Regions from separate parts of the Homo sapiens genome. Here region 1 is linked to region 2. Evidence: fine-mapped expression QTL. A gene starts in region 2. The other region holds a variant in brackets. All regions are shown on one strand. Distances are from middle to middle.

The links. PIP is the estimated chance that this variant, and not a neighbour inherited with it, causes the effect.
Region 1: its variant is fine-mapped to the expression of KHDRBS2 in transverse colon (GTEx, PIP 0.96).

Annotation. Positions count from the first base shown.
Region 1 is chr6:61,959,842-61,975,486 of GRCh38, reverse strand. The region is part of intron 4 of KHDRBS2 (KH RNA binding domain containing, signal transduction associated 2); the gene reads left to right. Among named protein-coding and RNA genes, the nearest start is that of KHDRBS2, 320 kb to the left of the region's middle. The variant G/T (reference allele first, on the strand shown) is at 6,071.
Region 2 is chr6:62,278,045-62,293,689 of GRCh38, reverse strand. KHDRBS2 (KH RNA binding domain containing, signal transduction associated 2) reads left to right here and starts at 7,465. Exons shown (of 9, transcript NM_152688.4): 1 at 7,465-7,832. The coding sequence starts at 7,742. RefSeq lists a silencer at 7,516-7,605.

The DNA of each region.
Region 1 (15,645 bases), 320 kb after region 2:
GGGCAAAAATGAACTGCCAATTTTTTTTATTCTATGAAATGACTTGGTGATCTAAGGTTCTTTTGATATTTTATATTAAAGCCCACAGAAATGCTAAAGTTTCTATACATTAACATTTGCAAACATTGTAGATGAAGAATTCTAGGCAGTAAGAGACATGCTAGAACAACAAAGAAGGCTTATATAGGGCAAGACTCTGGAATTCCACTGACATCTTGTTCTTCTGCGAAAGGGATTAATTTTCCATGGTAGGACTTTTTACCTTCTTCTACCTCTTGTATGTTATCCAGAATTTACTCAACCTGCTGTATGTCCAAGGGTTGTAATTGTCTAAGATAACCAACTTTAGAACATAGAACTCCTTGTGAGCTGTCTGAATGCTTTAGGATGCTGGTAAACAACCCACTTTCAGCATTTTAAGTGGATTGCTGAAGACAAAAGAATTATTATTGCCTTGGGGAAAATTTCCAGCCTGTTGGTCTCCATTCACACACTGTAGTCTTTTATTTATTTATTTATTTATTTATTTATTTATTTATTTATTTATTTATTTTTTAAGATGGAGTCTTGCTATGTCGCCCAGGCTGGAATGCAATGGAACGATCTCGGCTCACTGCAACCTCCACCTCCTGGGTTCAAGCGATTCTCCTGCCTCAGCCTCCCGAGTAGCTGAGATTACAGGCACATGTTACCATGCCCAGCTAATTTTTGTATTTTTAGTAGAGATGAGGTTTCACCACATTGGTCAGGCTGGTCTCGAAATCTTGACCTCATGATCCACCCGCCTCAGCCTCCCAAAGTGCTGGGATTACAGATGTGAGCCACCACACCCAGACACACTATAGTCTTTTCAAAACAAATAGAGTGTCAAGGGTCAATAAAACACCTTTAATTTGAACATGGCTAATTTTAAATCTCTAGTACTTTTGGGAGGTGAAGTATTAAAGTTTTCATTATATTTGATTATTTATCTTAAAAATACAGGTTAGAATTGTAAAATAAATTTTTTGATGAGTAACGAGAAACAGGATATAAAATCCTAAACTAATATATGCTTCAATAATGTTGATGCACTCCTCTCTTTATATTCTATAAAGAGGTAAGCAAGTATTGCCACTATTGTATTTTATACTATTTCTTTCTTTCATAGTTCAGACACCAGGATTGCCACATATGGTTGTGAGAGTTGTGTCTTGTGCAACTCTAGGGGGTAACATTTACACCATAGTTTGTGAATAGTACTACCTAGGACCATGAATACAACTTTCCTATTTCTAATCCTTCTCAGTATGTTACTTCAAAATGATAACACTGTTTTATTTTCCTAAATTGGCTTATTCTCACCTTCAATTCAATTGAATTAATAAGTTTTACTAATGCTTAATTATTAACTCATGACTGAAACATAGTACATTGTCTCATAATTAGAAATTATGAAGTGTTGCATGAAATTCTGCTCATTGTGTGTTTATATATTCTTTCATTAAAAAGATGAAAGGAGGAGTTTTTGCACAGATAATTTGATTAGGTCATGGATAACAAATAGATTGCTTTTTTACATCTTCCAATAACTATCCTATTGACATAGTTAAGAGATTGTGATTCTCTTTTCTACCTTGGCCCATCATGGCCCAGAATCTTCCCAACACAGCATGCTGCACAGCGTTACAATATTAGCAGAGTTGACAGAACTTGAAAAATTTTGCCATGCCAGGCTTAAGTCTTTAATGATTATCACTAGAGGTCTATATAATTTAAAGGAAAGATATATATATAACTTATATACTTATGTAAACGTGTGTGTGTATGTGTGTAACTGTTACTAGACTCATATATAAGATTTTAAGTCAATTTAAGAGAGAAAAAATATAGATCATTCCAGTTTCTTTCTTTCCTGCATTAGTTGGATGTGTGTCTTAGTGATAGCTGTGATTCTTGAAATGGGGGAATTAGGGTGTATTATCTCATTTCAAGTTTGAGATACTGGTAACACATCTGGGAAACCTACCAAGAGCCTGACTATGGAGGAAAAGTAAAACCTTTTTCTTCTTTATGGCAAAAGCAAATGGAGGATATTCTTGCCTCCCTTCTTCAAACACTGTAATCCTAGTTCTGAAATTGGAAAATGTCACTGATTACTAACAGCAATCATACTGGTAAGTAAGTAAATGTAAGGAAAAATAGAAAAGGGAAGCAGAATTTTCAGTCTAGTAGATAGATCTAAACTTTCATACACTAAAAAAAAGTTATAAAGTTTTAGAAGATGATAAATATAAAAATGTGTCCCTGAAATTGATGCTATAATTTGAGAAAAAGTGAAAATTTGATCAGTCTATTTTTTATTTTTCTTTTTGAGACAGAGTCTCACTCTCTCACCCAGGCTGGAATGCAGTGGTGTGATCTCAGCTCACTGCAACCTTCTCCTCCCAGGTTCAAGTGATTCTCCTGCCTTAGCTGGGATTACAGGTGCATGCCACCACACACAGCTTATTTCTGTATTTTTAGTAGAGATGGGCTTTTGCCATGTGGGCTAGTCTGGTCTTGAACTCCTGACCTCAGATGACCCACCAGCCTCAGCCTCCTAAAATGCTGGGATGACAGGCATCAGCCGCCACACCTGGCTGATCAGTCTTTTATGCAGGTGAATATATAGGGAAAACAATGTATTCAACTAAACCCCACCAGCCAGCAAAAGTAACTGATAAATGGCAAGACCTAAAAGGTGAGAGATGGCAGATACATTTTGACTGGCTGACGGCAGGAGTTCAACATTTATAGCAATAATATCCTACAAGCAAGAGAATGATTGGTTACAGAATTTAAAAACAAAGTTCAATGCAGAGAGGGAAGCAGAATCCATAATCCAGATTTCATTCCTTCATTGTTGTGGTTGTTAAAATGTTGTCAAGAGTTCCCTCATACTGCTATCTCAAAACCAATTAATTCCCTTTTCTTTCTTGTAACTAACCATATTCTAATAGTGTGGTAGCTAATGGCAGTAAGCACAAAGCCACATGTATTTATGTAATTATTAGTTGCTCAGAAATATTTCCTGTATTGCTATAGTGCTATAGCACTATGATAATAGTCTGATTTTCTTGGAAGACATCTGTAATCATCTATGGAGTATTTCTTCTTATCTGATAAGTTGTAATAGATAATACAGATCTATTAGAACAAAACTAAAATTCTTATTAGTTCTTAGAATAGAATAATAGTAAGAATCATGATTATTATTATTGAAATCCAGGACTACTGTATCATTGCTAATTGATTGACATAACTTGGAAGACAGATAAAAGAAGCAGTTGGCATAATAATCATATGTCAACACTGACCTGCAAATAGCTTTTAGATGAATGTGACTCAAAAAGACTCATGATTACTGGAGATTGAGCAGAAAAGGTGCCCAGTAATCAGAATCTGTTAAGTAAGGTTTATAATTTTTATCTGAGATAAGAATTGGAAATAGGTGAATAGATCATACTAATTAACACAACAAATATTTCTGGACACCAAATATATGCCAGGCACAATTCTAGCAATGTATGGTACATGAGCCACTGACCTAGTAGAATTTAAGAACCAGAAAAACTATTTCTAAAATGTAAAAGATAAAGATTATAAAGACTTATTTGAGAGCTACTGGAAATGGGAAACCAGATTGGATAGTAATGTGTTTAAGGAAGGATGGTGGCAACAATAGAGCAGGAAACACTGATCAAACAGAAAGTGATATTCCTAGGGTCAACGAAAATCAATTGCTGGCAAAGACCACCACCATACAAACAAGGGTAATTTATCTACTGAGACAGAGACAAAGAGAGAAAGTGGAAGGGGGAGAGGAAGAGAGAGAGAAAGAGAGTTCGATTAGCCTCTTGAAAATATTGATGACCCACAGCCAAAGATTCTATTTCACAGTGAACATTTTAAAATACACCAAGAAACACCTCCAGAGTATAGCATATTTTGAAACTGATTTTTTAACAAAATTATGTATTTCTGAAATGTATCTTCAACTTCTAGCAACTAATTCTTACTTTTTAAAGAGCTAAATAACATAAAACATTTTTTTTGAATTGCCCTTCCTTGATTAAGTGATCTCATTTTACTACTTTGAAACTCAGCAAGCTACAATGAAAAATGTATTGATTCTTCCAGATGATATTTAAACTAGATAGCCAGGAAACTTCAGAGAATCCCTATTGTACCAAAAATATAACTTCTATCTCATCTTTAGTATTTTTGTTGTTATTGTTGTTCCCTTCTCATTCACTCCACGCCAGTCTTTCTACGTAGTGTATGTAAGGATGCATATATAACAATGCCTTAAAATACAAGTACAAATGGCTTACTGGATGGTCTGTACTCAATGTGATACAAATAGGACTTGGCTTTATTTTTCTTAACAACTGTCATTCTCCCCTTCTTATTCTTAATTTCAGCTTGAACAAATAACATAGTTTTCTACTCCTTCTTCTATAAGAAGAGTCTCAATTTAGGCATTTGAGGTTTTAAGAAGCCCACTTATTTCCAATTTATAATTGCCATTTCAAATCTAATACAAAACTCTTCTCCTCCCACAGGCTTAGAACAAATTACAGCTTGGGGAGTAGCAGTGGGAAGAGGGCATGTTATACTCATTCATCTCCTTGTACAGTCTCCAGCTTTTAGTGCTCCAAGAGCTTTGTGAAAAGGTCATGAAGAATGAGACTGGTAGGTGATGTGAACATAGAGCAAGAGAGGCGTAACACTGGTCCTGTAATAATCTAGTTGGCCTTGTTGGTTTGAGTCTTAATTTCAAATATTTTCCCCTGTTGGGGTATGTGAATGATAGACCAGTAGAACTGTTGCAAATCCTCAAATGACTTTCTTCCTTTTAGCTCAGTGGACTCTTCGATGTGTTCAGAGTTCTCACAGTGAAGTGTTCTCTCTCAGTAATCTCTAAATGCTAGGTTACCATCTTCCTGCATCCAGTGTTGCATGTGAGCTTTCTTCTGTGTACTTAACTTGGTCGTTTTGAATGAGAGCTGTAGTTCACCTTATACTTAGAATTCAAGCATTTTACCAAGATATGCTCAGGTGTTGCTCTTTTCTCATCAGCCCATACTTGAAATAAAATGATGGGATTTTTTTTTTAAATGCATTTGAAAGAGTCTGAAAATATGCAGTTTTTTTTTAACTAATCAGCTCTTTACTTTATTCATGCAAACAAGAAACTTTTCTTTAAATGACCCAATCAAGTAACATGGGAGTTCAATAATGAATTATTGATATATGATGATGGTGGTAAGAGCACCATTTTAAATTAATCAGTCAACAAGATTGCATGATATTATATATAGATACACACATATATAGAGAGAAGACAATCACTTATGTTATTTCTATCTACATAAATGAGTCAATTGTAACTTTCCAAAATCTGTTTCCTTTTATATTGCTACTATTTCTCAGATGTCTTTCATTCCCTTTCTTCGTTTTCTCTGTTCTGAACTTTAGAATTTTAGGGCTTGACTTCTATAATATGGAAACTTTAGTTGCTCTCTTATACCAAGAATAATAACATCTTAAAATTTTAAGAGATTTTATATGTTTTTTTTTGAAACACACCTCTCATTTAGAATTCTACGGCCTCCAACTAGTATTTATCTTTATTTAAGTCAGAATAAAATTTGAATACACAAATTCATATAATAATTTCACCCAATTTCACTGGTCTTGTCTGTTATCCATAGCATACTGAAGGGATTGAAAATGCCATCTGATGAAATTATTGCATTTTTCCAACATAAATTACATTTTAATCCTCTTCTGTTCTTTTCTTTTTATTCCTAATCTACTTCTTATTTGAGGAATTTGAAGCTTTAGAAAGACACTTTATAAGCCAGGATAGGTTTCAGAATCAGAGGAAAATGATTTTATAAGTGAAAAAAGAAATGTTTTACAAATAAAGGGTATATGAGTACTCTCCTTAAACCCATACATAGACAAGTTATAGTTAGGATAAGATTTCAGTTAAAACTAGTCCTCATGCAAAGTACAGACATCTTTTTAGACCAGACACATT[G/T]TTACAACAAAAGAAACCCACTGCATAAAACATATTTTATAATATTCTTTGTTTAGAGAGTGTACTGAATTGTTATGATTAACAATCTGCTAGTAACTGTGCATGTTAGTGATACAAGGAGAATAACCTTTTCTCTAGAACCTAGATGATGTCCTCACCAAAATGTGGCAAAACACAGGTCACTTCTTATAAGAATTACATTATCAACCTTAAGTTCTATGAGCAACAATAATCTGTTATCCAAAAATTCTTTATTTAGATAAACTTGCTACCCTTGCATTAAGCCCAGTTCACTTTATTACAGAAAAGATCTTATATGTAAAAGCTTTTATCTCAATACCTATGTGGATTCATTTCTATAATTATAGAACTGGAAGGGATACTTAAGCTCAAAACAATTAACAGGTTTCTAAGGCAATATAAATATTAATGTTTGGAAGAAAATACTTGAAATTCATTATTTTTTTCTTTCTTTTATTTTTGTCAATCCTCTAAAGAATTCTCAGAAGCCACAGAGCTCCAAAGAGGGTTATTTGAAAACCACAGGTGGAATCTAAGCCTCATTTTACCAGTGAGGATACTAAAGGCCAGCATGGTTACTTAAACTACCCGAGGTCAGGCAACAAAAAAGGGCCTGATCAGATGCCTCCTCATCAAGGATATTATCAAAATATGCAGGCCCAGATGCTGTAAGTTTTCTCATGCTGTATTGAAGGGCACTAAATAAGTAACTTGCAGGTGGCATGGTTTGTGTAATTAGTATTAGGCTTCTCTGTATTTAGAGAATCATATAATGCCTATTTATGGTTACATAGACAACTCTGGACTTATTACCATTCAGCAAGCACTTGCCAATATTGCTTTTAGTGGTAACACAGGTGCAATTTTTCCTGCACATTCTTAGATACTCATTAATTCAATAATATATTCATAAGGCTGTTCTATTTGGGGACCTCTTGTTTTCACTTTCTTATTTTCATGGCAGAAACATATTACACCCATTCGTGAAATCACTTCACGGTTGTTTTAAACATAGGCAAGGAGTATGTGACAGAACTGTGGTAGGTGTAGGGGCATGAACATATCATATGTTGGAATTATGCATTGCCAAACATTTTCAGGAATACTCTCATATCTAGAAGCAAGATGATGCCTTTTTACATTATAATGTGGTCATTCTCACAGTAAGAATGGTTAATAGTGCAATGTACTGAAATATATTTAGAAACTAGACTTCAGCAGCAAAAGAGGGACTGGCATGGTAATGTGTATATATCATTGGTTATTCTCAGGAATAAAAGAAAATACTATTTAAATTACAGTAACATTCTAAAGCTTAAAGATCCTCTTCTCTGAGTAATAAAGTTATAGATTTAACTACTGTGCCATGCACTGTGAGGAGTGCAGAGAGAGGGGGTATATTTTCAGTATGTGTGTGTGTGCATGTGTGTGTGTGTGTATATATATATATATATATATATATACGTGTGTGTATGCATGTGTATATATATATGTGTGTGTGTGTGTATGTTTGTGTGTATGTGTGTGTATGTGTGTATGTATGTATGTATGTATTGAGAGAGAGAGAAAAGGCCAGAGAGAGAGAGAGAAGGGAGATTCTCATGGAAATTTTAAGAGCAGGCAAAATAATAATGTAGAGCCTCACAGAGAACTGTGAGTCCTAGACAGTGTAGGAAATCTAATAAATAACTTCAACATTAAAATAATCCACCTCTCTCTGTGTGCTTATTCACTTTCAGCCTCTTCCCAACCGACTTGCTTACCTCCACTCTGCTTTCTTGACTTCAGAGCTTCTACTCACTCCTGGTTTGGGACTCCTCTGAATCTGGGTTTGCTATAATAGCTCTTGCCCTCTCCTTTCCCCACTGACCCTTTATAACTCTCCTTTCAGCTACAGCCCACCCTGCTGCTTCTTATTTTCATTCATATCTATCTATATCTATATCAATCTATCAATCTATCCATCTGTCTATCTATCTGTCTATCTATCTATCATCTATCTTCACAGCATACAGCTTGTAAAATGGCTTACATTTCCAAGCACTTTCAAATAAATGACTGTCTTTTCTCTCAAATTTCACAGATATACTATGATTTACTGTTATAAAGTATTTCACTTTTTTACTTTGTTTTATTTCTTTTAAGTCTGAAATTTCAGTGGGCTCATTTATCCTTTTTTTTTTTTTTTTTTGTAAACATAGTGGAAAGAAATCCTACTCCAATCTAATCATTTAAACATGGCACACAATTGTAATTTCATGTGTCTTGTTATATTTGTATGACTTTAAATGAACAAGATAATTTTAAAATTATAAAGGAAACTACCATAATTCTATTTTTTTAAATTTATCTCAGTTAAAAATATACATAATTTTTGTAGATCTCAGTGTATAAAACTATCCCATTCATTTATTAAACATAATTAGGAATTTTAAAATAAATCGACTGAATGTTTTTAGTTTAAATTAGGCTCATTTTTAGGATTATAAATATATGAATGAATGAGCATTTCTGACTATTGTACTGTTTAAGGAGAGGTTTTCTCTAAGTGCATGATAGGGAGAGGCAGAAAAAAAGAAGGAAAATAAAAAGAAATGTCTGAGCCAGGAAGCTAACCTGATCCTAGTGGTTTTATGGAAGCTTAAGACTCTCAAAACCCGTATTCCAAAAAATAATAATAACAACAATAAAGTTACAGTTAGAAGTTAGAATAGTTTTGGGGTGCTGTGGAATGCCATGTGACTAGTGACAGCATGAAGAATTGGGCTGCTGGATTTTGGCTTCTTAAGATATTGTGTAATTTGTATTTTCCGTGGTCAAGTAGATCACTGATCACTTAGAGATCACTTTCAAAATGAGAAGAAACCTCTGGATTCTCTGCCCAGAAAAATGCACATGCAAATTATCATGTCCCCTGGACAACAGAGGTCCAGGGAATTCACATTCATGGATCAAAGATGAGGGAGACTTACACTAGAAGCATCACAGTCATAGTATGGGAGAAAGAAATATTAAAATGCATAACTAAAATTGCATTAAAATGCTAAATTTATTTCATATTAGAAAATTATATGATCTATATTGAAAAGTACAGATCATTTTGCCTCAAACTACCCGAAGATAGTTGTAATAGAAAAGTACATTTTCTTACAGTTATCTTCTTAAATGAATGTTTTATCTTACGATGAGATAATTTTACTACCAAACTGTAATTCATTACCTTTCAGTGTAATTCTCATTTTCAGATTTCATTTTAAGCGTAAAACAAATTCTATGTCAATTATAGTACAGTTAGAATGTATTGCATCCAGAGATTTATTTTCCCCTGATATCAATCATAACAGTTGGTCTGCAGGAGCAAGAATGAGAGGAGGTACACTATGAATAATAGGAGGCTTTTCTGTCTATTGCTGATTGACCCTAAACTTCTTATCTAAGTAGTAAAATCAGGAAATGTAGCTCATTATAAAGAATATACACAAAGGTGAGGAAACTTGACTGTGGAATGTCTATTATATTTTAAATTAACTTATTGCAGTCACTCAAACGTCTCCTTCCAATTTAAGTGACTTTCTAAACATTATTCATCAAAATATCAGTACTCCCATTGCTCTCTACTCTCCTCTGCAAGAAAATGCCTTAACTTATCCTCTAAAGTAGGACAACTTTACCATAGTCCAGAATCTCCATATTTATACATTATATATATTATTTATTTATGATTCTTTGGAAATTAAAAATAACTGTACAATATTATAACAAAATAAATACTAACATATATTGGTAACCAGAGTGACTCTTCTTAGAATATCAGATTTTTCACTACCTGACCCTCAACCAATCTGGAAAATATCTACCCTCTCTTGCTTTTTAATCCCCATTTGCCTCCACTGATCATGCAGTTTTCAGAGATAAAAAGAAGAAACTGTAGGGAATAATGTTAACCCGAAAACTACACGTTTCTCCAAACCCAACTTGACTTTTGTCATCTGGTAAATACTTAGAGATCAGGAATGAGCAGGATGCCTAATATCTGGTCTCCTTCCCAGTCCTAGCGGTTGACCATACCCACAGCAGTCTAGACTGGGTCCTCTTGCCTCTTTCCAAGACTTTGAAGCTTCCAGACCCATAAAGGCTATGATTGATTTGTAAGTAGGGGGAGCAGATGTTTCAAGTGCCCTGAAATTGGCCCCTGGCACATGGCAAACCATAAGCCCTCCCAGAGCAGAGTGGAAACTCTCTGGACTCTTGTCACTGGAATTTAGCATTTCCCTTTTAATTTTTACATCTCAGCCCTAGAAAGCCAACATCAAACTCCTCTTTTCCAAAAAGCAACAGAACTTCGTTTACATTCACCCAAGTGCAAAGATTAACAAATTCTGTGCAACATACATGAATATTCATGAATATACAAGTATACTGAAATATAAAGTGAAACATTAAAATATCTAAATATTTCTGGGTATACAGATGTTTACCCATGTGTAGAACAAAATGTACAGATATTTGACTAAAGTATCTTTTATCCTGTTGGTAGACTGTATTTTTGCCTAAACACCTGTGTGGAAATCTGTTTAAGTGCTTTTCCTTTGAAGCACATTTCTGCCACTGCTGTTTGGCTCATTCATCTGTTATTTATGTTACAACTCAAATGTCAGAATCACTTGAAATCTAGACCAAGACAATGATTCCTCAATTTATTTTTTTAGATAACTCAGTATCTGTAAATCACATTAGCTAATTAAGTTCATCAAGTGTTACTTTAAAATAATTCAAAAATCAAATCACAAGCAATAACAGGCTTTTAATTTCAAGGAGAAAAAAGCTTATTTTTTAGAAATAGTCAATTTGCTTTCATAAATTAAAAATTCGATGTGTAAATACACTAGTGGACATCTAATATGCTGGGGAGACATATAAGTTGACAGTGAATATGCTATTTGCAAATGTGTCTCTCTTCTCTCCCTAATGAAATTCAGCTCCCTGAAGTCAGAAATCAAAGCTGGATTATACTTTATAAGCCCCATGCTGCCTGATGCGATTGCTTGTGCCGTCATTCTCAATAAATATTGATTGATGAACATAGCCTCTTACAATGTGAACAGGCTAAAAATGTTTAACTGAATTTTTTCATTAGCCAGAAATTCTTCTACAACATATATATGTGTGGGCTCCTAAAAAGCAGCATTACTCCTCTGTAGCACCAATTGATACAACAAACTGTAAGTGATAAATCTTGGCTTCATGCTCGATTTTTTTCTGTAAGTGAACTTGTGGTAACGAGCCGCAGTGCAAGGAGGTCCGATATTTTGTACTGTGATATATTCAGAGGAAAAGAAGTACATGTCTTTAGATGACATTACCCTTCATAAAGTCAACTGGAAAACAGAATTAAAACTGGTCATTCCTTTGGGAACAAGATGAGAATCTTAAAAGTTGTCTTTTTGTTATGGAAAAGCTCCTTTAAACTTTAGGTGTAAAGGAAGAAACAATATTTTCCTCAGCTTAATTTTTAATATTTGGTAAGAAATTATTCTAATTTATAGATCACAGAAGTTATCTCCTTTAGTTATCGAGAAGAAACCTTTCACTTGGATTTATCAGGCCCACGTACATGATTGCACATCAAAATGTGAGGGATGAGGAGAAACCCTTGTAAAATCCTGCCGGCTATGTGTCCCAATTAGACTGTATTAGGGAACTTTCCTTAATTTAGATTGGGTTAGGACATCATTTCCCAAAATATTATTTGGAACACTTATTTCACAGAGTGTTCTATTGGAAAAGAAAGAGTGAGAGGGCCCCTGTACTCAATTAAGTTTACAAAATGCTTTCTTCAGTGTTCCCCTTTCATAGAGTCACATCCCTAATTACCATTTAAAGACTCTGAGGAGTGCTGCAGTGAAGAAGCTAAACTTTTTCAATCCAATGTTTGCATATTTATTTGGCCAAGTAGTCCTTGTTCAGGAAGTTATCTAATTTCATCTCAACATACTTTAGAGATTGTTATATTAGAGCAATATTTCAGCTTTTGTAAAGTGAGTTAGTTCTTAAAACAGTAGCATTTCCCTCATTCTGAAATTTCTGGATCCTCAGATATTTTCTTAGACTGCTAAAATGTAATTGCTCATGTTTTCATATCATATTCCATATCATTAAATACCATAATTTATAATTACATTAAACCAGGAGTTTATCTCATGTTTAGAACATAGCCTCAGGTAACAAAACTGATATTGGAATATTATTTGCTTTGCATATATTTGTGATGGTACCCTTACTCCCTGCAATCATGTTTACTGCCATGTTTTATTTCACTATTAAATAGCAACCAGCTTATGTGGTGTTTGGTAGTGAATAAGTCTGCTGCTGTCAGTGTGAGAAATAAAAACAGAATGGCCAGCACAAATATTTAGCATTGAGACTCATTTCCTTTTAATCATACATGCTCACCAACAAAGACCTATTCACACATTTACTATCACATAAAATGTAAATGTGTTTCCCTTTTTATTAACTGAAAATCTGAGCTTCCAGAGCCGAAATCCCACATTGATAGTTGATGGAACAAAGGTTCTAAATCTGATTTGTATAAAATTCACATGATATTTTATTGTCACCCCTAGGAGTGGCCTGGCCTAGACTGTAGTCATGACTATATAATTTTTGTCAGAAAGCGAAGATGAAAATTGATAATGAAAATGATCATTTTTGACAGTTATCCTCCAGATTTATTTATCCTAATTTATTGATTGTAAGCATCTTCTAACTATAAAAAGAACTCCCCAAATTTTACAAGTTTAATGTTGAAAAAGTTAGTGGATCTTCTACAGTGTAATAGTTGTACTTTGTATTAGTTGAAAGGTCACATCCAAATTTAGTATTAAAAAAAATAACTTTGCAAAACTTTGACCCCTCCCACACATAAAAAATACAATCACTTAGAGTGTGCAGCCCATAGATTGGGAACTACTGAAATGGAGCACAGATCTACAGGCCACACATACTATTTTGTTCGTGTGTTAGAGCAGCAAGTTTTTGAGAATATTATTGGTTGTGCCCACAGTTATTGCTTCATCACAAGCTGATCAAGAGAAGTCATGTTTCTTTCTACTGAAGCAGGAGCCTAGGGAGACCAGCTTTTTAGAACCTAACCATGAACTTTCAAAGCATATCATTATACTTTTGATTAGCAACACAATAGAACTGCCATTCAACTTCTGCCAGAGATTATAAACCCACTCAGCTGCCCAATTTCTATCAAAGCTTACTTGTGAGAAATAGTGTTTATTGAAGATTGCCTGTAAGATATACTTGCCTTTAGAGCATCAATTCATTCATGCATTACCTTTCCTAGAGTATTTTTCATGGAACACAGGTTCTGGTTGGTTCTCTATTATATGTGTATATATATATATCTCCACATAAAATATGCTATTGTATTTATTATATGGTACCTACATAGTCTATTTTAAACACAGCTGCCAGAATGATCCCGTTTAAACTGTAATCCAGATCATGTCAGTCCTGTTCTTAAAGTCCAGCACTGGCTCTCTGCTTCATGCTGAGTGAAAGCTATAGAATTTATAATGGCCTTCAAGGCCCTGTATGATTTTGCCCACCCAGCAACTTCTCTTTGACCTCATGTGCCGTGGTCTTCCCTTTTTTCCCTCTGGTCACTCTAACCTTTTCACTGTACCCATGCGCAAGTCAGGCTTGCTCTCTCCTTAGGGTCTTTGAGCGAACCCTCAGTGTGAAAGCCTCCCCACAAGTCTCCATTTCAGCACTTCAGCCTTTTCAAATCTTTGTTCAAATGTCATTCTTTCAAATGAGGCCTTTCCAACAACCCTACTTAAAACATCTTGCTCCCCTTGCCAGCACTCCTCATTCCCCTTGCCCTGTAGTACTGTCTCTTTCCTTCCTTCCTTCCTTCCTCCATCTCTTTTTTTCTCTTTCTTTCTTTCTCTCTCTCTCTTCCTTCTTTCTCTTTTCTTTCTTTCTTTTTCTTTCTTCCCTTCTTTCCTTCTTTCACACTCATCACCTTCTAAACCACCTTACAAGAAGCTTAATTATTGCTGTTGTTTATTATCTATTACATTCTCCCCTACTAGAATGTACAATCCATTTTTTTATTGGATGTTTTATTCATTGACTATCATTAGAGATAAGAAAAATCCCTGGCAATAGTAAGCACTCAGTGAATAATTGTTGGCTTAATCAACGAATGAAAGTTTATTGTAAAGCTATTGTTGCAACATAGGATATATAATGCTCACTTTCTTGGGATCTCATAAGGAAAATTTCTCTCAAGTTTCTCTTTATCCATACAAGTCTCACTTCTAAGCTGTGGACTAACTTCAGTCTGGGCCAGGGAAAAAAGGCAGGGAAGAAAGTGATAAACTGAACACTACTTCAATTGTATTATAAATTCTGATTTCTACTCCCCAGTCTGCATGATGCTCTTTACTTTTTAGTGTCTTCAAATAACTGCTTCATGCACTCAGTGGGTAAAACATTGCAGAGTGTGCTCATTTCATCTTACCCTGAACGAGATACCTCATTGGAATTCTTCTACTCTTTACCTCATGAAGATTAAGCCTTTAATCTTAAAATTTGTTCTCAAATGTACATAATGTCTATCAAAAATAAATTTATGTATAGGAAGAAAAATTGATCATTTTCATGCAGGAAATTTGTTAAAATGCTTAGAATAATTTATCTGTAACTGAATTTCGAGTTTTGTTAATGGAGGCATTCTGCTTTTTGTTGAAATGTTACAAATGTGGACTTTTGTGCTTGTGCTATAAAACCCATCCCTATAAGCTAGTCATGTTTTTATTGATCTAAGGATCAATATGTTTATTGCTTCTGAAATATTTCACTTTATTTCACCACATTATTGCAGTCATACATAATTGTGATAGTTAATAATTGGTTAGTTGAGTGTAAAATTCCCCCTGCACCAATTAGATGCAATTTTTTCCTATGTTGCTTTAAAAATATACATTAGAAAAATATTTAACACTCTTATTTGTAACTGCTCCAAAAGGTTCAGGGCTCATGATTTTTTTAAAATAAATCTTTCTTAGAATTGGGCAGTTTTTGCTACTTGTCTCAATATGAGTAGAAAGAGACAGATTACTAGATTAAGGACAAGAGAATAGGTACTATAAGCCCAGGTGGAGAAGCAGGTTGTATGGTGCAGATTAGCTCAAACAGAAAATACATTAATAGGGGGTTTTAAGGTGAGTACTTTCTGAGCCCTGGGGATCATCACAGAGAGCTGTGAAGCCAAGCAAGGGCCTGAAAAGTACAGGGAAATATTTGGCGAGAAGGGACAAGATATTAAACACAAATTCTAAACTTTACATTTCATCGACTAGTCTTGATAGTGATGAAATGTTTTCTGAAACAGAAGATTCTTAATTATTTATTTTTCTAAATGAAATCAGAACCAAGCCTTGAGTCCGTTGAAAAGGAAAAACATATACCTAGCTAGAATTTAGGAGCACAGAGGCAGGGAGCCAAGAATTTCTAACAGAAGCATTTAAGCA
Region 2 (15,645 bases):
CACAGAAATTTGAGAATCAGCTTTTACATTTCTACAAAATGTGTTATTGGAGTATTGACAGGAATTACATGGATTCTATAGATTGGTTTAGGGAGTATTGCCATCTTAACAATATTAAGTCTTTCAATCAATAAACATGGGATGTCTTTCCATGTATTTAGGTCTTTAATTTCTTTCATCATGTTTTGTAGTTTTCAGTGTATGTCTTTCATCTTCTTGGTTAAATTTATTCCTAGGTATTTTATATGCTATTGTAACTATAATTTTTTTCTTAATTTCTTCTCCAGATTGTTCATTGCAGGTGTATAGTAACAACTGTTTTATGTGTGTTAACTTTGTGTTTGCAAATTTGTTGAATTTGTTTATTACCTCGTAGTTTTTTGTGGATTCTTTGGGATTTTATACTTACAGGATTATGTCTCTGAATAGATAAGAGTTTTTCTTCTTCCTTTAAAATCTAGATTCCATTAATTTCTTGTTTTCTAAGTGTTCTGCCTAGTACTTCCAACATTATGTTGCATGAAGGTGGTGAAAGTAGGCAGGCTGGCCTTATTTCTGATTTTAGTGGGAAAACTATCTTGCTCTGCTGAGTACAATAATACTGGGTTTTCCATAAATGCCCTTTACCATATTGAGAAAGTTGCTAACTATTCCTAGTTTTATGTGTGTGTGTGTGCATATATCTATCTATCTATCTATCTATCTATCTATCTATCTATCTATATCTATGGGGTGACTGCTCCCAAACTTTGGTCACAATAATACAGCAGTATTTACTGCTTCTAAACATTTGCCACAATGATAAACTTTTGTCACAATAAGACAGGAATAACTTTTGTTACTTTGCTCTATTCCATTCCTCCACCTAGGTTCTGAACTAGCCAACTGAATGCATTCAAGGACATGTAGAGCACATTATGATAGAAGAAAAAAAAATACACTTTGTCTATGGCAGCTAACAAACTGAATGAAAGCATTTAGAAGATACAGGGTAAAATCAGAAATGCAGGGATATCATAACACTCAAAGCCCAAGATCATATACAAGAAGCATGTAAACTATAGCTTTTGTCCCATGTTTACATCTATAATTAAAATGTAACTGTAGTTACTTCTAATTTGTTTTGTTTGTTTGTTTGTTTGTTTTTTTGAGACGGTGGTTTGCTCTTGTCGCCCAGGCTAGAGTGCAGTGATGTGATCTTGGCTCACTGCAACCCCCACATTCCGGGTTCTAGTGATTCTCCTGCCTCAGCCTCCCGTGTAGCTGGGATCACAGGCACCCACAACCACGCCCAGCTAATTTTTGTATTTTTAGTAGAGACAGGGTTTCACCACGTTGGCTAGGCTGGTCTTGAACTCCTGACCTCAGGCGATCCACCTGCTTCAGCCTCCCAAAGTGCCGAGATTAGAGGCATGAGCCACCGCGCCCAGTCAGAACTGTAGTTACTTCTTATATCTCTTCAAAATAAATGGTTTATTGTTTGACAAATCGATGCCATTGGGATTTTTAAAAGAAATAATTGAGCCAACACAATTATTTGTATTATCCTTTATTTGGAAAAAAAGATAAATAGGTAATTTACACACGTGTGGTTGGTATTTTCCGTAAGATATGTAAAGTTATGTTTTTTAAACAAAATTTATCATTTTGTGGCCAAATTTCTGAACTCAATTCACACTATAACAAAGGTTATATAATATAAATATGGACTTATGAACTCCATGGCTGGCTAGTAAAATATGATACTTAAACTGAAGTGTGGATAAAATACTTTGAAGTTATTTTTGTTAATAACTAGCTAATTTTAAAATTATGTTTATATTCTGCAATAACTTCAGATTTACAAAAATGTTGCAAAAAATAATACAGAAAGTTTAAATATACCCCTTATCAAACTTCTTCAAGTGTTAATATTTCACCATACTTACTGTAAGTTGCCATTTTTTCTGTCTTTTTATGTCTCTCTCCCTCCCACCTCCTTTATGTGTATCCATAAACATTTATTTTTTTTCTTAATTATTTGAAAGTAAGTGGCTGATCTGATGCCCATTTACCCATTGAATGCTTTATCGTGTATTTCTAAAAACTCATACATTCATTTATATAATCACAGTACATCAGCAAAATCAGTAAATTTAAACAACAGACCTTTTTTACATTTAACAAATTAACTCACTAATTTTCTTTCTCATGAAAAATAAAAATAAAAACAAAATCTGATCTAGGATATAATCCAATATTACACTTGTATTTGTTTTCAATGTATTGGGATAATTTTTATGATATTTATTAGTTCTGTGCTGGTTGGATGGTCACACAGTCTATCACCAAGCATCACATACAATGTATGTGTCTTTGATTTTATTATTTTGTTTTCTTCTCTTGAAACTGATAAACTCTTAAATTTGGAACTGTATATTCTAATTTTATTATCATTCTCTTAAAATGCCTGGCAATTGCTTTGTACGAACTATTTTATACAGTAGATTTCATAATGATTGTTATATGCGTGGTAATGTCTTTAAATGTGAGAGACCAGAATGACAAAAACTTATACCAAACAAGTGTCTGTTGTAATATAAAAACTTGAATGGGATGGTATTCTCTTAAAATACTATTTCAATATTAATAGTTTTCTAATTTTTTAATTAACCTCCAAATTAAATTGAAATTTAATCCATGCTTCCTTTTTTGTATTATTCATGATATAAAACAATTGCTTATACATCTGCCTGTCTGGCAAAAGTTTTAACGTACTTTATTATCATTTTTATTAAATCGTCTCCTAGCCTTCATATTTTTATTGCATACTGAATACAACAGAGATTAGATCTTCATTTGATGTGTAAGAAAAATATATTTTACTGATGTGATTTTTACCTTAACATATTGATCTCCAGAAATAATCCATACTTGAGCTACAATTCAAGGATTTAATTTTAAGAATATAGTAAATAGCTTTCACCTTGGAACAACAGCCCCATTCCCATTTCCTCTAATGAAGTACTGCTCCTCAGCTGCTATGAGTGCCACCCAAAATGTGGCAGTGCAACAATTGTTCATGGAGATACAAGGACATCAACTCTGTTAGTTTTTCAAACACAGATAATTTAAACCTCAGAAATAGTTTCTCTGGGCTAAGCCACATTAGAATTAAGAACAGTTTCTTCCTTGGCCTTCCTTCCTTCCTCCCACTTGTGAGGATTCAGAACAGCAGTGTTCTAACACAGTAGCAGACCCTCAACAAATGTCAATAATTTTCTTTCTGTCTCTATTCTGTTGTTCTTTAATTATATATTTGTATCAGTTTAAATATAATATGCTATTAAATAACTAGAATGCTTTCTAATTAGAAAACACACACACACACACACACACACACACAAGCTTTAAGTGGTGAATATTTATGTGGTACTATGATATATTATCATATAGCATAAATTTTATCTTTGAGCATATTACATATTAGAAATTTCTTACTACACATGCAATTACCACTATTGGTCATCAGCAGAGCCAAGTCCTCATTTCCTTGTCTTTTCTTACAATCCTAAAGTATAACATAGAAGTTCTAAAAGAAACTGGAACTGATTTCACTTGTGTAGTTAGTGAAATTCAAAGAAATTAAGATATTAAAATAGCATCTTTTATATAATAAGTTCTGTTGGGCTCTACAGTAAATATAAGTGGGCCAGTCCTTTATTATAGTTTATTATACTCTGTTCTAGGCACCAAGGCATTAGATTGCTAAAAGAATATTAACACCATCATTCTCCATTATCATTATGTAAATTATTGGGCCAGGACAATTTTGGAAACATAGGGTTCTTATTGTGAGTTGGTTTTACTGAATCCTTTGAGTAACTAGTCAAGAGTTAGTTAATCCTTGGAGTAACTAGTCAAGAGTAGCTAATGTGGTATCCATAAAGTTAATAAGAACTCTGGAAGCAACAGAAACTGTGCTCTACTTGATAATGCAGGCTGGGTATTTTTTTATTAGTTTGCAAGGATTAGTCTGATTAAATGCCCTTTAGCCTGACCTTTCTTACAAGGGTGTGTGAAAATATTGAATATACAGTTTGTGCTTTAACCACAGAACATATTCTATGGTGCATGACTTATTCATCCTTCAAAACCAAATGTGGTTGGGGCAAAATTTTCTATAATATCCCATTTTAAAAATAATGTTAAAGTTACTAGAACTCCATTAAAAATGTTTTGGGGCTAGAAGTCATGTTTAAAATAAGATAAATCTTTACTTAAGTTAGGCAAATCAATTCAGTGGTGATTTAGGTTATTCATATCATTAGAAGAGGTGGGTTAAACAGCAGTTATAATTTATTCAAGGGTAGACACAAAATATTCTATATTCAACAATCATTTTTTAAAGTTTTTCTGTTTACATTTATGTTTATAAAATGTTTGCATTTTCAAGGTTTCTCTGAGAATATTAAAGGATAATGTTGTACCTGTAAAATATTTGCATGTGAAATAAATGGAGAACATGCAGTAACACAGAGCCATCTATTGAAAACACGTGGATCTGATGCTGGATGAGTGTATATGTAGGGCCCTTGGTGTTTGCCTTTATTTAGTCATATTCTGTTTAAAAATAGGCAACATTTTGTGAGATAATTCTGAAGCATATTGATTTTTAAGGGTCAATATACTTATATATCTTTATTTTACAATGTCCATCATGTAGTAAGTACACAAACTTTTCTAAAGATTATGTTAGAGTTTATTTTCTTTTGATTTTTTAAGTTGCATAAATATATTGCTTTGTTAGAATACATTTTAGGCATTTGATGAGGGATTACCTGAAGAACTACAAATAATAAATCTTTAGTTTTGATAATAACTAGAAAATATTAACTTGACTGTATTTATAATGACTTGAAGACATTGTATAATAAAGTCAGCACTTGGACAGCTCGCTGTGGTATCTTCTTATTAATCCTGTAATCATGGAAAAGATGGCTGTGAATAATAAAGTAGTTGTTGTTGCTGGACATTATAAGAGTTACTACACCTTCTTCATTCATGAAACTGGGTTTCTGCACGTCTCCATCCTCACCATATGCTTTTAATGTCTTGATATGCTGCAAAGCAAAATGTTATTGTAATTGTAAAATATTTTGTTCTAATTTACATTTATTCGAAAACATTTACAGTTTTTTGCCTGTGGTTGGCATCGTATTCACCCTTTACTACCATAGCAAATCGTAGCCACCTCTTTTAAGTTTGAAGCATATTTTCCCTTTATATCCCTGTTGCAGACCAGGTGCAGGATGCATGACCCTTCAACTACTAAACATTCTGCACACAGATAAAATAGCAAGAACTTTCTGTATATATACTCAATTCTAAATAATAGCTCCTTTGAAAGTAACATAAGAATCAGAAAGAGATTAAGAAGCACATCCAGAAAGATACCAATACTTTATGGTCCCCTATTACACTTAGAATAAAATCCAAATAATTTTCATTCATCAAATCTTCAGTGTTTGTACACATCAATCCCCCCTCCCTTATTGATTCCATTCTTTCCCATATTACAGTAGTCACATTGACCTCAGTCAATTCCAAAAGACAGCACAGTTCTTTCCACCACAGGGCTTTTTCAGGGGCAAGTTCCCCTGCTTGGAATGTCTTTCTTTGCACATTGTACTCACTTGGTTCATTCTTTTCCATGAGTTTTCACCGTAAATATCAGCTGCTTATCGAGATTGTATGTTTACCCTAGTCAAAAATAAAGAAACTAATGTCTTCCCTTGTATTCTCTTTCTTAACTCCTTGGTTCATTCTTGACCTTTATTGCAGTCAACAATTACCATTCCTCTTGTATACTTGGTTTTATTTATCTTCTCCCATTAGAAAACATCTTTGTGATGACAAGGAATGAATGTGTATGTATCTTATTCACCAATGTTTCTCCAATTTTAAGTACTGTCCCTAGACTCTTTTCAGTATCCAATAAACATTTGTTGAATGCACACATGCACAAATAAATTAAATATATAACACACAGAAAGGTAGGTTGAAGCAGTATATTCTGGATATAAATGGTGCTAATATAGAATTGAATTTTAATCTCAACTTCAGCATTAACTAGACATGAGACGATTTCTCTGTTTTGCCTCAGTTTCCATATTTATACAAACAGAGAAAGTAATACTTGGCTGGCATTTTTCAGAGTGCTTCTGTGAGGACGTATTGAAATAATCAATGTGAGGCACGTTACGTTATTTAAACATTATACAAATAAAAGTTAATCTCCCGAATTTATCTAAAAATTAAAAGGAAAATATTTAAATACAGTAAGATAAGTTGGAAAAATTTCAGCACATTTTATTTGTAGCAAAGTTGGCCCTCATTCTTCCACACCAAAAATAATGGGGGAGAGAAGAATCAGGAAATGACTACTTATGAAACGAGAACCCAAGACTTGGGGAAAGATTGTTTCCTAGCGATTGAGGCATGCAAGTTACATTTTATAGCCGCATTGGTAAAAGAAGGATGGGCTTTGCCTCCACGCTTGGTGATATCATGAGGGTTTAACTTTCCTTTAAATAGAGGTGGGATAATACAAAGTAGCTCAGCAACAGTACCTGGTGAAAGAGACTGGCACATCTAAAACTAGGAGAAAGGGGAAAATTAGAGCAAACGTGGTTACCTATTTTCTAGTCTCTTCTTTCTTCTACATGTCTTCCCAATTCTTTCACAAACTGTGACTAATGAATCATATTGTTTTTGGTTTTTAAATTCAGCCCCTCCCAACCTCCCTTCCACAGATAGGGTCTGGGGAAAGGAGGCACGGATAGGTTACCAGAACTAATTCAATATCCTAATGATTGTACACCTCAATCATGTCTCTGCACAATATTTCTTCGAGCCGCTTTATTTGTTTATCAATGAACATCCTACTGCGTCCCTGAGATGTAGGTCATCGGAAATACCAGCTGCCGATCACATGCAGTCTTCATTGTATTTCCAGACCCAGTGCGCTGCTGATTCCTGCACAACTGGAGTGCGCCTGAGCTGTGTGAGGGAAAGGAGACACCTGTGCCTTAGGGACGCAGGTGAAGTCCCATCTACCTTCCTGAGACTTTCCCTGGCGCTTTTCCACCCTCTCGGGTGGCTCACTTCTCATCTCCATCTCCCCTGTCCACTTGTACTCAGACCTCTCTCTTTAACCTGCGCTTTTCCCGCGCTCTCTCTCCTCTGCGCCTTAGCTGAAGACACAGAGAACTCCACAAAACTGGGCATGCCTAATAGCCAGGGAAGGCTTGGGCGCAAGAAGAAAGCGTTTGCATCTTCCGAGCTCCCTTCCCCTCTGCAGCTGCCTCCTGCCAGTCAGGCCACCCGACTTGCGCTACCGCCCAATGAGAGCCCGCGGCCTTCTGCCAGCGCCCCGCCTCTCCTGGCACCACCACCAATGAGTGGTTGGCGGAGGTGGGCCGCGTCCTGTTCCCGCCTCTCCAGTTAAGGCCGCTGGTGTGAGCCGGGGCTCTGCGCGAGCGAGGGACGACGGAAGGGACGGGCAGGTGTGGGCGCGGGGCCACGCAGCCCGACGGCGGGAGTCGCAGGTGCTGGGTGCATGGGCCAGTGAGGACGCACAGAGATCCCTCGCCGCGCGGAGGAGGAGCAGCGCGGGAGCCAGGCGCTGCCCCAAGACCCTGCCTGCGTCCGAGCGAGCGGAACCTCGCGCTTCGCCCGGGGACAATCCGAAGTCCGCGCTATGGAAGAGGAGAAATATTTGCCTGAGCTGATGGCAGAGAAAGATAGCCTGGATCCATCTTTTGTGCATGCGTCGCGCCTTTTGGCAGAAGGTAGGACTTGCCCCCACAGATGGGCACAAACCGCCGGCTGCCTATCTCACCCGCGGCTTGATTAGGGGAGTGAAGTTGGGGAGGGACTCCTCTCCCCGCCTTCGCAGAAACTGTCCCCCTGAAGATGCTCGCCTTAGAGCTCGGGCGGACAGACCCCGTTCTTGGGGCGGACAGCAGTGCTCCTTCTCCACGTCTTAATTTGGAGAAGACCAAAGCTACGGAGATCTAATGGCAGTGGCGATGTGACCTGTTAGGATCATTGATAGAGAAACCATAAAGTGTATGTAACGCGGTCTACAGGGACATTTTCACTTCGCAGAGGGAAGGGAAAGCAGTTTGGAAGTAAATGGTGATCAATGTAGTGTTCTAAGAGCTTCGTAGCTACAGATCGGTATTTTTATTTTTATTTTTTGCTGCATTTAGGAAGTGATTTTTGATACCCTTTAATCAAAGTCTATCCTATGGAAAGTGTTAGAATTAACCTATGCATTAAACTATGCATGTTCTTATATGTATGTTAATGTGGTAAGTAAAGGCTAAAGTGCTTATACATTTATTTGAAGTGTGATGATTGGGTACTCTGTGAGATATTGGTCCCTGGGAACACTCTATAATTGATCAACTGTTTTACCAAGTGTGCATTTTCTTTTGTGTACCTGTAATGTTAAAGGGGATTTCATTCCTAGAGGAACACATATGTCTTGTTTTTTGCATTGCTTTGAAAGGTTTTTTTTTGAAAAAAGACACATGAACTTTATTAACCGAATTACTCCATTTATGTTATAATAATGCCATCTAAATACTAAAGACACCTATGGTATCTGTAGTTACTTACCCATGCCTTTTTAAAACATCTGCAGATTTTTTTTAGATGAATGCTTCATTAATAATGAATTGCTTCATCATCAAATTGGTTACAATGCAGTTTTGTAGCTAAGTTTGTTATGGACTTACATACAGCAAAAAACTAAAACGGATAACTTCCTCTACCCAAGCTCCTCAGTATTAAAAGATTTTTTTGAGACTTAGTTGTACCAAGGAAGAATAAATTCTGCTCCTCAATATATGATTTAAATAGGCATTAGCTATATTTTTTAATTTATGAATTGTTATTTATATTAACAATGAAGTGTAAGGTATTTTTCTATGTTTAAATACTAAACAATTAGGAAAAGATTTATATTCAAAACATGGAACATGTGAAATAACTAAACTGTTTTCAGGGAAAAAGCTAGTTTTATAGATAAGTGGGAAGGTGAAATACAATTATGCCTACTACTTTCTTGGTTACTGAATGAAAAAAAATATAAATTAAAGTGGAAAAGTAAAGTCAATAAAAACGAACTTTTTTTACTTTCCCAAAAAAGACAACTACATAAAAATAATAGCAAAATAATGTGTTAATAGATGTTTAAGATTGTTTGAAATGATTTAAAAGGCAAGTCTTACCAGTCTTCAGTATCTTTAATATATTTTGAATAGTCTTCAATATATTTTCCAGAATTTTCTTTATGTAGCTTATAATATGTCTTTAAAGTGAAAAAAAAGTTACAAATTGATCATTCTCTCTGACCCGCTAATTGGAGTTCTATTTGAGACAAGTGGCTCAAAGATTAATTCATCAGTCATTAATATGAGTTATTGTACTTGAAGACGGCCAAGCTAAATAAATGCATACAAGAAACTCTTAACAGAGTGCATAAGTATTTCTGTGGCTGGTAAAACAGTCAGAGAATGCACTTGGTTCCTTAACATTTTATCTTTCCTAGGAACTTGATTTCTTGATATAATACTTAGGAACATGTTCTGATGTACCTTGTAATTTGATTTTTTCCCAGCAGGGGGAAGCATGCCCTGCTTTTGTAAAGAATTAGAAGGAAAAGCTCCTAAATAGAGAAAAACATCTAAGTAAGAAACAAAGAGGTTACCCAAATTTCAGAGAAATCAGAATGAGGAAAAGAGAATGGAGGAGGTTATAATAATCTTGGAGTACCTAAAGAGTTATGCAAAAGGGTGCATAGGTTTTATATTAGCTCTCTGTACCTGGGGCTCTTTACATGTGCTAATTAAAGAGTGTAAGATGATTGTTCTTGGAATCTCAATAATCTTAATGTATATTTTATGGTATAGATCTTTCATTATCTTTCCAAAGGCCAGTTGCCAAGATGTCCACGCTTAGTTTCAGATCTCTATAGAAGAGTATGGTTGAGATTATTTTATTTCTCATACCTGAGAATGCACTGATTGAAGGGAGTGGCTGTAAATAAACCTGACATAGATATTCATTTGGAAAGAAGGTGCAAAGTACATTTCAGTCAGTACTGTGCAGACAGTGTCAAGCCTGAGTGAGTAGTAAAAATGATACAGATGATTCAGTTCTTCAGAATGATTTTCCGGAAGCTAATATATATAAAGGCAGTAGTATAAACCAATGAGATTTCACAATGATTTATTTTGCATTTTGATTGGTGATACAGGCAAATCAGTGCTCAATTGACAGTGCTTCATGTAGAATTGAAGGCTGTGGGGTTGAAAGTACTAGTTGGATGTTTATTTGGGGTTTTTGGGGGGTCCATTGTAGTTTGTTTTATTTCACTTGTTTGTGCTGTGTGTTTTCAATGAGAATGATTTCAGTTGATTGTTACTCAGAAGAGTTCTTGAATAATGTAGTTTGAAGTTTGTTTATAATATGCTTAAATAATTAAAATAATGTTCATCCTGCGATTATAATGTTGTTTAGTTATCCACTTGTTATGGTAGGTGCTTTTGAATATGATAAAACAGCAAACTCAGGACTATCCTTAAAGTTCTACTCAGTGTCTGAATTTGGTTGCCAGATGAAATTACATAAGTTTATTTATATCTTTTCTGCTTCTGGGAAGTGCATTAAACTGTGAATCTAGATACCTAGATTTGAATTCCACTTTAACCTCAACTGAATCTGGGTAAGCTTTCTTTCCCTGGGCCCAGTTTCCTTGTCTCTCAAATTAAGGAGTTGGACTAAGTGATGTATATGTTTTTTTGCAATTCTAATTAAGTCTCAGGCTACTGATGATACAACGAAGTGATGTTTGTATATTCGGAACAAAAATTCAATGGCTGCACATTTTTGAAACTTTTTTCATTCTTTCCTAGTTTAATGATTAATAATATATTTATGGCACTAAAATGTAATTTGAGGCATATACTTTATTTTGGGTACTGGGGACAGATTTATGTTCTTAAGTCTATTGAACTACTATTAATGTTTGAGGCCAAAAATGTATATACATGAAAATATTATCTGGAAATATTCTGTGTCTGCTGACAGACATAGATCTGTTCAGATTTATATATTCAGTTATGGTGATTCCATACTCCTAGGAGCATTATAAATTTTTGTCCAATTAAGAGAGGTTTGGGGAAGATTTTCTAGCCTGAAATCTTTGCAAGCACTGAAATAATCATAACCATTTTGGTTGACTCATTATATGACGATGTCAAATATTGCCAAATATTCCAGCAGTTCGAATGGTTTTCAAAAAACTGTAGGCGCTATTTTCAAACTTTAGTAAAAAGTTTGACCTGCCATCTAGACTTGGCCTTTATTTCTGCAGATATAAATGAGATCTTAAAAATATTAAGAAAAGAGGGATTAATACTTACCACACATGCAAACTTGTGAGTTAACTACATTTAGATTATCAATAAGAACCATTTTTTAGTTAGATCGTGTTTCTTAAATATTTTTCATAAAGCTTGATAAGTTTTTTAATTAAGGAAAGTTATTAGTGTCATGTCTAAAACAGCTTCTGGTTAAAAAATAGTGTTCCTGTGACTCTTTAAAGTGACTTTTCTTTTGATTAACGTAATCACCTTTTTCTCCCAATAGACTTGGGATAATCTTATGTTTCTTAAATACAAAACAAACATGGGCAAAAAATTAAATTCAAGTTATCTTTGATCTTCAATTAAGACAATTTATGATATAGTGGAAAATTTCTACTTTGACAAGAAAAACACTTGGGAGTGATTATTGACACTTCTACCTACTGGGAAATAAAGGATGTGTCATTTTTTTTCCACCTCTCTGATACTCAGTTTCTTCATCTATATAACAGGAAAAGTGATACCTACCAGGCAGGGTTCTTTTAAGATGAAAAAACAAAAACAAAAACAAACAAACAAAAAACAACTTCTGCTTGTGATGCTTGTGATAACATAAGCCGTATTTTAAAAATTTATTTTATTTTATTTTTGAGACAGAGCCTTGCGCTGTTGCCCAGGTTAGAGTGAAGTGGTGCGATTTTGGCTCACTGCAACCTCTGCCTCCTGGGTTCAAGCAATTCTCCTGCCTCAGCCTCCCAAGTAGCTGGGATTACAGGTGCGTGCCACCACACCCGGCTAATTTTTGTATTTTTAGTAGAGACTGGATTTCACCATGTTGGCCAGGCTGGTCTCAAACTCCGAATTTTGTGATTGACCTGCCTCATCCTCCCAAAGTGCTAGGATTACAGGCATGAACCACTGTGCCCGGCCAATAATTTTTATGTGTATAACAAAAATATAAGCAGAAATTAAACAAACATAACATGATGATGCACCTCAATTTGAGAAAATAAGTAAAATAAACACTGCCTTACTTTAGATTACTGCTGAGTTACATTTGAACTCATAAAGCAAATTATGAAATAAATTACCTTATGAAAAAGGATTAGATTGAGGGTTTTAAAAATATCATGTTTAGTAAATGATCACTTGTCAGTCTTTAACCATGGGCTTGATTAGCCCTGGTCCTATTTATTTCAAGAGTAATTTCAGACCTATTCAGGCTTCATCTTAAACCCACATGTTCTTCACTCTCAGCAGGTGATTTCATCATCTGTTTTATTGGAGGAAATGGATATCTCTCTTCTGCTATTCCTCAACCTCCTACCACCTAAAAACTTCCATAGCCATCGTCATTGTCTTTCATTCCCAGAAGACCAAATGTTTCTTTTCTTCAGGGTTGACTTGCCATCCATATCCTTGACCCAAATGCTCTTCATCTCTGGACTCATTCTGTAGTTAAATCCTTTATTTGTATCTCCTACTCTTTCTCCCGATCGACTCTTTCTTTATAGCAGCTGTCAACATGATTCAATGTGAATAATTTGAAGAAATAGAATACTTCTTTCACTTGCCACAAATATTGGAAAATAATCTCTCTTGACATTTGTCCTTCCTTGTTTCCTTCAAACTTCTGATAATACTAGTATATACTAGCTGCCTCACTTTCTTAATTTACCTTTTTAGAATTATTCGGTTTGGCTTCTGTCTTCATCACTGTCCTGAAACTGATGACCCTAGTGACAGAATAATCTCATATTGCCAAATTGAGTAAATTTTTTCTGACCCCTTATCAAGTCTCTTGGCTGCACTTTCCACTGTTGACCTTCTTCTGATTTCTTTCCATCTTCCTTGTCTTCTGGGCACTATATTCTACTGGTTTTACTTCCTTTTTTGACCGTTTCTTGCCCTCATCATCCTTCATTTCCCTCCTTCCCACACCAACACACACAATGCTGTCACAGTAATTCATTTAAAGTCTCACCATGTCACACTTCTTAATAATTTCCATTGCCTGCAAGGCGTAGTCCATACCCCTTGACGTTCTTATAATATGCTTACCTCTCCAGAAGCATCTCTTCAGCCTTTCTGCTTAATTTCTCTCAGGTATACCAAACTGCTTATAATTCACTCTCTACACTCCCTTGACATTCCCATACCTATTCACAGAAAGCTAGATATTTTCCCCTCATTCCCATAACGAACGCCTCTAGATCACTATTCAAACTGTTATTTTAGAATGATCAGGTTGTGCCTGTCTCTCTCACTAGAGAAACAGCTCCTCTCTGTCTCCTCTTGAGGAGCAGAACCAAGTCTTTTTCATCACTATATTAGCAGCACTTTTCACAGTGCCTGGTATGTGATGGTGCCAGGTAGAGGCCAAACAGGCTTTTCTCCATCAGATTTGAGAACCAGCCCCCTGTTGGCCCCTCTGCTACCTCTTCCGCATGTGAATAACACTTGCTCTTCTCTCTGTCCTCTCCTATCTCTAAGGTGTTGCACATGCTAAGACCTCACTTTAGAATGCCCTTTCTAGCTTCTCTCCATGATTATAATTTATCTTCATCCAATAAAACTGAGTACTGCTATTCCTTCTTCTAGTAAGCCTTTCATAATGGCTTCTCATCTAATTCATTATAAATTAAGTGCACTTCTGGTTTTATTTTCAACCTATCCACCACTACTACATTGCAACATGCAATTCTTTTTGATCTTGGTTGTCTCCCCCTCTAAGCTTGAGGGCCATACTATGACTTCTGTCTTTGAATTTTTAATGCTTGCCTTCAGTCTTATATGTAGAAGGCCTCAATAAATGTTTCTTAACTGAATGATGCTGACCTCATATCTTCCTTTTTCTCCTACCATGTGTTTAGAAGATATCTCCAGAAACAATTTTTCAGTAATTCTGTCACTTACAATGATAATACTAATTCAGTCATATTTTATCTTTGCATAATTCAAAACCTCAGGAGGCCACTTTGAAAGTTTCCATTTGTTTTTAAGTCAATTTTGAAAAATTATTCATATGCAGGAAGTTGGAAAGATAGTACAGGGAAGTCCTTCTTTACTCTGTGAGGTATCTGAGAATCTGCCCATTTGTTTCTTTGTTGTTTGGATTGAGGCTTTGTGTGTGTCTGCTTTTTATTTATTTTTATTTATTTATTTATTTATTTTTTGAGATGGAGTCTGGCTCTGTCACCCAGGCTGGAGTGCAGTGGCACAATCTCAGCTCACTGCAAGCTCCGCCTCCCGGGTTCAGGCCATTCTCCTGTCTCAGCCTCCTGAGTAGCTGGGACTACAGGCACCCGCCACCACGCCTGGCTAATTTTTTGTATTTTTAGTAGAGACGGGGTTTCACCGTGTTAACCAGGATGGTCTCAATCTCCTGACCTCGTGATCCGCCCACCTCGGCCTCCCAAAGTGCTGGGATTACAGACGTGAGCCACCACGCCTGGCCGTGTCTGCCTTTAATACTTCTGAGTTGCTGGCTTTTCTAGCACTCAGTCTGGCACATACGCGGCACAAAGAAAATCTAAGAAAACCATTGAAATGTCATTCCCGAATCTTGTGGTACTGAGACAATTGGCCTCCTTTTTTCCACTTTCTAGAAAAGAAAGTCTTCTTATGTTTATCTGTAATGTCCCATCCGCATTCATTTATGTGTTTTAATTTATATTTTTATGAAATTTTCTTTTGATTGACTATTAGGCCTTGTACATTAATATTAATATTTCATTGACTAGTTATATAGGAATGAGCATGACCACGATAAATTCATCTAGATAATGGACACAGTAGTATTCTCTATATTTATCTGATTTTAAGGTTTTTTTATGGCCTGGTACCTGAGAATGGGAACATAACTGATCATTATTCTCAGTTTCTCTTTATGTATACAGTCTATAGTGAAGCTGTTTGTTCCCACAGCAGCTGTACAAGGGGAGGAAGTGAGGTTTGGAGGTAGTTTTTAGAAACCCCTGGAAATAACTGTGTAGTATCATCAGCTTTCCTTTTGCACTTATTTGAGCACTGAATTTGATCTTTCTTTTTGGTTTGGCTATATTATGAGAAATATATCTTCATTGGAATTATATTCTGGCATCAGTTTGATTTTTTAAAGCTATAAACCGTGTAATATTTAATATATTTCATAGATCAAAATTTGGTACTATTCCCCACAAACTGCTGAATTCCAATAAAATAAACTGAATTTGGAAATTTTTTT